Linked DNA regions of Homo sapiens. The protein of the gene in region 1 interacts with the protein of each later gene in a biochemical or structural test. Each region holds a gene or a part of one and is shown on either strand. Other genes may lie near its edges.

Region 1 (7,037 bases):
ACAGAGATTTCTGAAAAAGTTATATTTTTGCAGCAAGGAAGCGCTCCATTCCTTGAGTCTCAGGTAAAAACCAAACATAAAGGATTTTCCAGAAGAAATTGGTCTTCAGACTTCAGTGTCATTAAAATGCTCTTAGTTTTTATTTTCCCTTTAACATTTATCTTGTTTAAAACCAAGGTAGGTACATAATTTTGATTTAGATTCTGGGGAAGGGAAAATTGAATTTTCTTAATATTTTAGTTATCAGTTATGCATCATTTCTTCATGGCTTCTAATCCAAGCTGATTTTTCTCTGTATGTTGTCATTGACTTACTTTCTGATAATAATCTTGCTGAAATGTTGTTTTACTGCCTGTTTTTACCTGTAGAGTCGTGCTAATTTAGATGAAGTTGACTGATTTTGAAAGTTCTGAATTCTTATTGGTTTCCCCACTAGCCAAGTGTGATAAAGAAAATGCAGGAAGGAGACTCTGCTGACTCTGTGGTTACTTCTCGTCAAATAATTTTCCAGAAAACTGTCCCATCAACCCTAGAGGTTATTCTTTCAATTCATTTCATTTAATCTAGCAACAACATGTAGATCAATCTGTAGTGGTATTTTTAAAGGCACACGTATTTCTAGATTTAAGTTTTCAGGCTGTAAAAAACAGAAAAGTTTCTAGAAAACATTCTAGTTTAAAATGTAAACCAGGGCACTCACCTGCTCCTGGTTTGATATCTCTTCCCTCTGTAATCTGTGAAGCTATTAACCTACCTGGTCATATTGTATTATGCCTCCCTGAATACAAAAGTTTCTTAGCTTTCCTTTCTTTTGCCTTATTGGAACTAACACTAAAGAAAGTGAGAGAGAAACTCCTGAGACAGTGAACTTCAGTTGTAAATAAGATTGGAGCGGGCACAATGGCATGTGCCTGTAGTCCCAGCTCCTGGGGAGGCTGAGATGGGAGGATCACTTGAGCCCAGGGGTTCGAGGCCGACCTGGGCAACATAGGGAGACCCCATCTTTTAAAAAAAAAATGTAAGACTCGAACACTGTACAGATCACTGTAAGAGGCTCTAATAGTGTCCTATTTGTGGGAAATATTTCATTACAATGCCTTGAACACAGTCACACTCAATATTTATTGAATAATAAGTGCTATTATGGATTCATTTCCCTGTATAAAGAAATACAATTTACAAATATGGAAAATATTTACATAAATTTGTAGAATGTTGGGAAGCTCTCTGTGATAACAGTATATGAAGTATAGATTATATTTAACGAGGAAAACTTTTATCCCCACACATGTAAAGCTAAGTAACTTATAGAGCAACATCAATAATGTTATTTAATCTTGAAATATAAAATGATCCAAAATTTATCATAAGAGCAAATCTGTTCTTCAAAAAATTTACTGCAAAGTATGTTCCAGTTTAAAGAAGTTGCAACTCTACCTACCGAATGTATTCTGAGCTGAAGTTTATAGTTTATCATTTCAGAGGAGAAGAGATTGCAGCCATAATTATTAGATAATAACATGAGCACTGTATGGTCCCATCACAGACCTGCATGTAGCAGTTGCCCTGATTTTCTTAAAGGATTCTTATTTTAGAAATGAGATACCATCAGAATTTCTAATTTAGCTTTTATATTTCAAATATAGGGCACAGAGGATTGGGTTATTGTAGACAGAATACCAACTGAGGTAGTTGATGGTGATTTGAAAAAGATTGTGACTTACAAGGTGGTGACCGTGAGCAGTAAAACTGGTGATCTCCCAGCTGACATGTTAAAATCTGGCACTATTAAAATGCAAAGCTTCGAAGAATTGGCTCGAGAAATGCAACTGAAAGAAGACAGCAAACAGAAAATATACACTCTAGGAAAATCCTATGACACTGTCTCCGGGAGAATTGTTACTATGACTGGGAAAGCTAAAGAGGGTGAGAAAGTGGAGCAGCCCTCCACTACAGAAGCACTTCAGAAAATGGAGAAAGAAATACCAGAGTCCATGAAGATCATTCCCGGCCTGGCAGAATATGAGGTCCTGGAAACCCTCGCTGATGAGAAATCCAAGAGAGGACCAGAGGTCCAGACGACACAGCGGAAATTGTCCGAATCCCTGGCCCCCATCAAGGAGGCCGAGTCTCGCCGGCAGAGTCCTGAAGAAGATGACCTCAAGAAGGCTCCACAGCTGGAGAAGGATGTGGCCGTCCTCCCTGGCCTGGAAGGCAGACGCTTCAGCAAAACAGAGCAAGTGCCCGAGAGTGAGGTCTTAAAAGTGGGCCTCTTTGGTCCCCGAAGGAAGAGCCTGTCCGAATGGAGATATTCCCAGGAACCAGCCTTTACCGTTGCTACTGCCCATTACGTTACTGAGTCATCCGCCTCCCGAGTAGTGGTAACCAGTGTCACTCATTGGGGCCACAGTTTGCAATTCCAGCATGACAGTTTTTGAGGCAGTCCCCTTCCACCCCAAACCTTTCCGTTTCTCTTGCTGCTTGGCTTTATGTTGAGAGCAGCCAACCCAGCTTCTTAATTTTTTTTCATGGTTAAATCAATACCGCAGTGCAAAGTCAGCATTAAAACACTTTCCATTTTATTTCCAGCTCCCTGTTCCCAAGATGTGATAGTGCTGCTGTGGCTTGCAATGAAGGGGAAAAAATATATATATCTGCTTAAATCGGCGCCACCCTGATCCTAATAACCGTCTCTGCTTTACCAAACAAGAGCACCTGGTTTTCTATTTTATTTCCCATTCTTTTCGTTTCCAAACTCTGAGATTCCTTCGTTCTTCCTCCTCCCTGTCTCCTCTGCCTACGATTTTGTCTAACAAGCTGTGAATGTTTATGTGCCTGAGTTTGTGTCTCTCTTTTGTGCTTGACTCTGCCTCTCTTTGTTCACTCAGACTAAGCAGTCTTCTGGGGAAAAGCTCATGGATGGCTCTGAAATCTTCAGTTTATTAGAGTCTGCGCGAAAACCAACAGAATTCATAGGAGGGGTTACTTCTACTTCTCAAAGCTGGGTTCAGGTGGCCATTTGTTTTCGTCCTTGGTGTTTCTGAATGTGCCCATGTGCCTTTCCTTACCCTTTTTTTGGGCGTGAGTGTGTGGTTGCATCCAGCTGGCTTTGCCTTCAACATCTCAAAGGTGTCTTCACTTATTGTCCTTTGTGTCTGCTTGGCATATCTGTCACATGCCTTTAGTTGCATCTCAAGAATGTACTTCACTATTCGAAAGGCGATCATATTGAGAAATTTTAATAGAATTAAATATCTAAAAGCATTATGTCTCACCAGTTGAGTCTAAGAAAGCAGCCAAAACCAACGTGAATGCGCTGCAATGCTTTGGTTTTTGTTTTGTTAATTGCACTTTATCCTGCCTTCCGTTTGTTTTGCGGATGTCCTGAAGCAGCAGCGCAGGTTCAAGTGCATGCACCAGGGGCAGGGGCAGGCATCAGAGATTTCAGTGGGAGAAATGAAAGCTAATTTATATTTTTCGTCAGTGTTTCTGGTTATAAGCACTTGCTGCTGGCTTTAGACATCCTGGCGAGTGGCAGCTTTAGTTATTTTCTGACCTTTGGTTTATGGATGGTCACACTGATGCCACAATCTCTTCCCATGCAGAAAATGGAAACCAAGACGGAGTCCAGTGGAATAGAGACGGAACCCACCGTGCACCACCTGCCGCTTAGCACTGAGAAGGTGGTGCAGGAGACCGTGTTGGTGGAGGAGCGGCGTGTGGTGCACGCGAGTGGGGATGCTTCTTACTCGGCGGGAGACAGCGGGGATGCTGCAGCACAGCCCGCATTCACAGGCATTAAAGGGAAAGAGGGCTCTGCCTTGACGGAGGGGGCTAAAGAGGAAGGAGGGGAGGAGGTCGCTAAAGCTGTCCTGGAACAGGAAGAGACAGCCGCTGCTTCCCGTGAGCGACAAGAGGAGCAGAGTGCAGCCATCCACATTTCAGAAACTTTGGAACAAAAACCTCATTTTGAGGTAACTAGTAGTAAATGTTACTTTTATCACTAAAATAAAACTGATATAGGATGCCTGGAAATTTAGATCAGCATAAAGGTGGAGCTAAGTTTAATTTTCTGCCTCTCCCATGTATAGTGTATTTCTCCTCTCATTTCCTTCTTTCATACCTAGTAGGAGTCTCCACACTGATTTCCAGCTTTGGTGTCACATGCAAACATATCTCTTAATTATTAATAATATGGCACCAGGAAATGGTTTCTACTCTCACTGAAATTATTATAATTGGCAGTAAAATTGGGAAATGCAAAGTTGGCCAAGATATTAGAAAATGTGATACATTTATTTCTTATCAGTGCACTTTTCCAGAAGCACCAAAACCATGTTTACCCGGGTCCTAAATGCCAGAACTTTATTCTTTATCCTCTTTTATTGAGATTCCTGAAGTATTTGGGGAGTTAATGTCTCATTATTAGTTTCTTCTTTCTAAGAAGTTATTAAATAGAAAACTTTTTTTTATTGCCTTCAAAATGTTTTGCTTTACTTGGAGCATTTCATATAAAAGTGCTATGAGAGTCCAGGAGACTGACATGTGCATGTTGTATGCCTCATTCCCCAGCTTACTCTCTACATAAACATTTATAGCATACTAACCTGTGCTTATAACCACCAAGAGAGGAAAAGGAAGAAAACAATGTGTTCATGCAAACTATAACAGCCACTCTGCTTACTCCCCTTTGGCACAGTCCTCAACGGTGAAGACGGAAACCATCAGTTTTGGCAGTGTTTCACCGGGAGGAGTAAAGCTAGAAATTTCCACGAAGGAAGTGCCAGTAGTTCACACCGAAACCAAAACCATCACATATGAATCATCACAGGTGAGATATTCTGTGAAGACCAGAGCCCTGGCTGCTTATTTCACCCCTCTATGGCCTAGTGTGTTTACATAGAACTGCACGATATTTAATTCATGAGACTTAGAGGATCCAGCAGCCAGACCATTTCTATTAAAAGTGATGCAATAATGGTCATTTTATTAGTGATCAGGGAGCAGCAGATGACTTAACCAAGTCTTTATGTGTCTTGAAGTGTAGAAAAAGGCTCAGAAACCTGTTTCCCTAGCCACAGAGAAAGAAAAATATTCACTCACCCATCCACCACTCACATTTCTGAAACCTTAGTTTTTTTAATGACAGTTACCTGTGGTTGCACTTAGTACTTATTCTTGGGAGCAGCGCTCAGACTCTGAAGAGCATAATGATTGCATAATAGGAGATAGTGAAATTGTCGTAATGCCTTAAATAACGTAGCCAACTTCTGAAGAGCAGATGTGAGCACCTGGATGAGGGGTCTATGCCTCTGCTGCTTTAGGTCGATCCAGGCACAGATCTGGAGCCAGGCGTGCTGATGAGTGCACAGACGATCACATCTGAAACCACCAGTACCACCACCACTACGCACATCACCAAAGTAAGTGGAGTGAGAACCGAGAAGAGGATTCCTTGAGAGCGAGCTGGAGGAAGGTGCTTGTTCAGAACTCCTCACAGGTTGGGCTGCACAAGCACAAGGTGGCTTGAAGCTCAGGACGCCGGGATAGCTGCAAGGGGAGCTTTTACAGCCCCTAGATTTACGATGCACTTGTCCTCACGTGCGAGTTCCCCTTTAGGAATATACATTCTGATATCCTAAGCTTAATGCTTACTCCAGTGCTTGGCATGTGGTAGTGTTCCAGAAACATGGGCCATCCAGACCCAAGGGCCTCCATTCCGTCCTCACCTCTGGAATTAAAAATGTGAAATAAGTGCCATAGAACTCTAATTTCAATTCTCGAAGAGTGAATGATGTCAGCATCTTCGGCCATTTCCCCCTACTGAACCATGATGGTTTCTCCCAGTGAGTAAATTCATAAAGCTTCTCTACGTGTCTTGCAGACTGTGAAAGGGGGCATTTCAGAGACAAGAATTGAGAAGCGAATAGTCATCACGGGGGATGCAGACATTGACCATGACCAGGTAGTGTGTGTGAGACGGTAAATACCCTGGCAGAGAAACAAAGAAAAACCTGTTGGTCCTACAGTTTCAATGCTATTCCTCTAGTCCAGCATGTATTCCGAAGAAAATTCCGAATTAACTTTCCAATATATGATTTATGATTCCTTTTGTAATCATTGTACCTCATTTGTAAATTGTGGATATAGATCTAGCTCATAAGTCTCCACCTCACCACTGATCATGCATGTTCCACCTCCTTTTTGTTTCTGCCCTTCTGTGATTTCCCGGGGATAGGCGCTGGCTCAGGCAATTAAAGAGGCCAAAGAGCAGCACCCTGACATGTCAGTGACCAAAGTAGTGGTCCATAAAGAGACAGAGATCACACCAGAAGATGGAGAGGATTGACCAGAGGTAAGAGGTGATGCCGATTCTCTAGGCTTGCCTAGGCTGGCATGAGGCATGGGGCACTTCCCTCTCATCCTTCACCTGATCCCTCCTTTCCTCTGTTCTCTCACTGGCATTTGTTGGGCTGGTTACCAAGAGGATGGAGAATTGGTTTATGGGTTTGTCTCACATTTGGAGCTTCCATTCTTGTGGAGTTTTTGCATGCACTGCCAGTTAGAGGATAAAGGAAGAGCAGAGTCTATGCTTCTATGCTTGTGTGGTCTTCCTGGTGTTCCCTTTTATTCCATGGCCTGCACTCTTTGATTATCCAAATTTGTAATGGCAAATTTGATTTTACTTGCCATGTGGCCTAATTGGAACAAAGGCAGTTTTGCTCTGAGAGGCTCAATTTGTGTGTTCCAAATACTAGGGAAATAATATATACCCCTTTCTCCTTCTGATGGCAACATTATCCCGTCGTAAGCTTTCTCTTCAACTGTGTTTGATTGTAACCTGTTTATGCTTTTGTCTTTAGTTTTGTTTTTTTAATTTGAAAGCTGAGCACTCACTTTCTTTTTGGATGTCTTATATTTCCTGTATTCTTTGGGATGATTTTTCTCCCTAGCGTAGCACTGTCTCAGAAGGAGGCAAAAAAAATGCAGTCTTGTGGTCCTGTAGAAAGCACATACCTTTCCAGTGACTGTTTGGC
Region 2 (2,657 bases), on another chromosome or scaffold:
GCACTGTATTATTTCTTACAACTGCATGTCAGTATACAAGTATTGCAAAATAAAGAGTTAAAAAAAAAAAAAAACTGTTCTCAGTTATTGGTGGTGGTAGTATTAGTATTGCTATTCTGAGTTTTTATAACATGGAATAAAGCAAATGAATAATTTTAAACTATTCTAGTGGAAAATGAAATATTTCACCATGATCTTCAATAGACAGAAATCTCTATTGAGCTTTGATGGAAAGAAGTCTTTTTTCTTCTTTGTTAAAATATGTTTTTGTGTTATGGACCATGTTTAGAAAGGTCAATTCAAAATTATAAAACATATTCACCAAAAAACGAGGATTTCACCAGAAAACTCAAATATATTTAAGCCCATAAATTCATAATATTTAAAAAATTGTTCATCTTTAGAGGATAGGAACCAACTCATAAATAACGCTGATTATAGGAAAGTAATGCAAATAATGGGAAAGACTCCAGCATTGATCCTGCCTTTTCTACATGGACTGCACCACTACATGAAGGGAAGTATGTCTTTATTTAAGAATTCCGACTGATAAAACAATGTATCCAGGGGAACTAACATAGGATCCCCATACACAAGCAATTCTAACAGTTCCAGGAACTTGGTGAAATGACAATGTGCCCATCACCCAGTCTGATACAGTGTTTCACCTACTCAAGATGCCAGGAATTGTAAGAAGCACAGTCACTGGCACTCTCGGTACACCCAAAAAAACCACAGCCAGTTCCGGAAGTGCCATCAGAAGATGCATCCCAACTTGAGATGCTCAAGTAGGACAAAAAGTGGCCTTGATTCAAGTGACAACGCCATTTCATATCCTAAGCCTTATTTTCACTACTTCTTACTCTTCAGATTTATGGAGGGGCCAGTATTGTCACCCATATTGTATCACTGAAAATCAGGGTAAAATAGCACAGCATTATGGCAACAAGAAATATGCAAAATCCTCAAAAAACATGATAGTGGAAGAATAAAAAAAAAACAAAAAACCCAAAAACTATTTACCCTGCCAGGCTTGAAGCTCATCAGGCTGTGCGGCCTGTAACCTCTGATGGCGAACACGTCTTGACTGGGGTCTTCTGACGCTCCTCTCGCTGCCCATCATCTTCCACATTCAGGCCTCAGTGGATCCTTATCAAATGCACCAAGAGAGAGCAAATACCACCAAACCCTGGCTTCATAACTACAGATCTGCGAACTGTTGAAATTATGTGCACGATGTTCCACATGTACGTATTTATTATGGGACTCCAGGATTGCTGGTATGAACTTATTGCCATCTGCACAGCTTTGTCAAGAGTACAAGACTGTAATTAATCACAATTGTTTCCAAGATACTTTGCCTTAACTAAACATTTTGGTCTGTTGAGAATAGAACAACTTGATTCCAACCCTGAGCATGGCAAGGGCAAAGGACTGTCGTGGGAAGCAGGGGAGAGGATGGTGAGGTCTCAGTTTGCCTAGAGGTAAGAGAGTTAAGAGAAAGCTTTGATGCCACGCAGCTGTGGAGCCCAGGGCTGATGCCACCTTAGGCATGGTCTTTGTGGAATAACTTACTGGACATCCATAATACTAATATCCATTGCTGCTTTATGCAAGTGGCATGGAGTCAACATACCCAGATAACCCAGGAAAAGTATGTCACTTGTAAATAACCCACGACTCTATGCTGAAGTCAGCAAACTATGGCCCATGGGCCAAACCTAACCTCTTGCCTGTTTTTTTTTTTTCTTCTTTTTGGTCTGATCTGTATAAAATAGACTTTACATTTTGAAATCATTAAGAAAATCAAAATATTGTATGGCATGTCAAAGTTATATGAAATTCAAATTTATGTCCTTAAATAGTTTTACTGGAACACAGCCATGCCCAGGCATTCACATACCGTCAATGGCTGCCTTTGTATTACGCAACAGCAGAATTGAGCAACAGAGACAGTTACGGCCTACAAAGCCTAAAATATTTACTATCTCTGTCCCTTTACAGAACAAATTTGCCAACCCCTATCTCAGAGTTCAGGTTTCACAAGTGCTCTGGTAACTTTTTCATAAATAAAAGATAAAGCCTGAATGTATAACTACAAAACAGTCACATTTATTACTGTTTGCTGTAGTTTTCAAAGCTTGTGCACCAGACATGCATAAAAAATGCAAAAGTGAGCCCAGACTGGTTGTAAAATGTTTCTTGTTTGTCATTTCTCCCTTTGCAGTTTCCCTACTGGGCATGCACACGCAGCAGAGGAAGAACAACAACTAGTCACCGTGCTAGATTTAAAAGCATTTAATGACATAGCATATATTTAACAGATAGGGCAAAAGTTGAGAGGTACAGGTCGTACGACTGAGCACCAGGCCTGAGCGACCACCTCCCTGTTCAGGCCCAGCCTCTGGAGTTCATTCCTATCAATGTCATTTTGATTGTGCAGTAAGATGAAAATTTGTCATTACAATAGTTACAGTGACAGAGAAATGCACACTATGTATCAAATAGCAAGGAAATGAAGCAAATTATAACACAGTGTGGCAACGCACGAGCAAGTAACCATTAGAGTAACATTACTTTGTCCAGTAAATGCTTCAGTTCCACCACTTGTACACTTACCAATGATTTAAAGGGTTTATTATACATCTAGTTTTATT

The links.
Region 2: the proteins of EPB41L3 (region 1) and SPTBN1 form a complex in vitro, tested with the Homo sapiens proteins (one study listed by BioGRID).

The regions. Positions count from the first base shown.
Region 1 is NC_000018.10:5,393,995-5,401,031, reverse strand, and holds part of EPB41L3 (band 4.1-like protein 3), read left to right. Parts: coding exon of another isoform or gene 1-63; intron 64-2,888; coding exon 2,889-3,011; intron 3,012-3,605; coding exon 3,606-3,974; intron 3,975-4,699; coding exon 4,700-4,831; intron 4,832-5,324; coding exon 5,325-5,423; intron 5,424-5,884; coding exon 5,885-5,965; intron 5,966-6,238; coding exon 6,239-6,349; 3' UTR 6,350-6,355; intron 6,356-7,037. UniProt on the Homo sapiens protein: Tumor suppressor that inhibits cell proliferation and promotes apoptosis. Modulates the activity of protein arginine N-methyltransferases, including PRMT3 and PRMT5.
Region 2 is NC_000002.12:54,669,302-54,671,958, reverse strand, and holds the end of SPTBN1 (spectrin beta chain, non-erythrocytic 1), read right to left. Parts: 3' UTR 513-2,657; downstream 1-512. UniProt on the Homo sapiens protein: Fodrin, which seems to be involved in secretion, interacts with calmodulin in a calcium-dependent manner and is thus candidate for the calcium-dependent movement of the cytoskeleton at the membrane.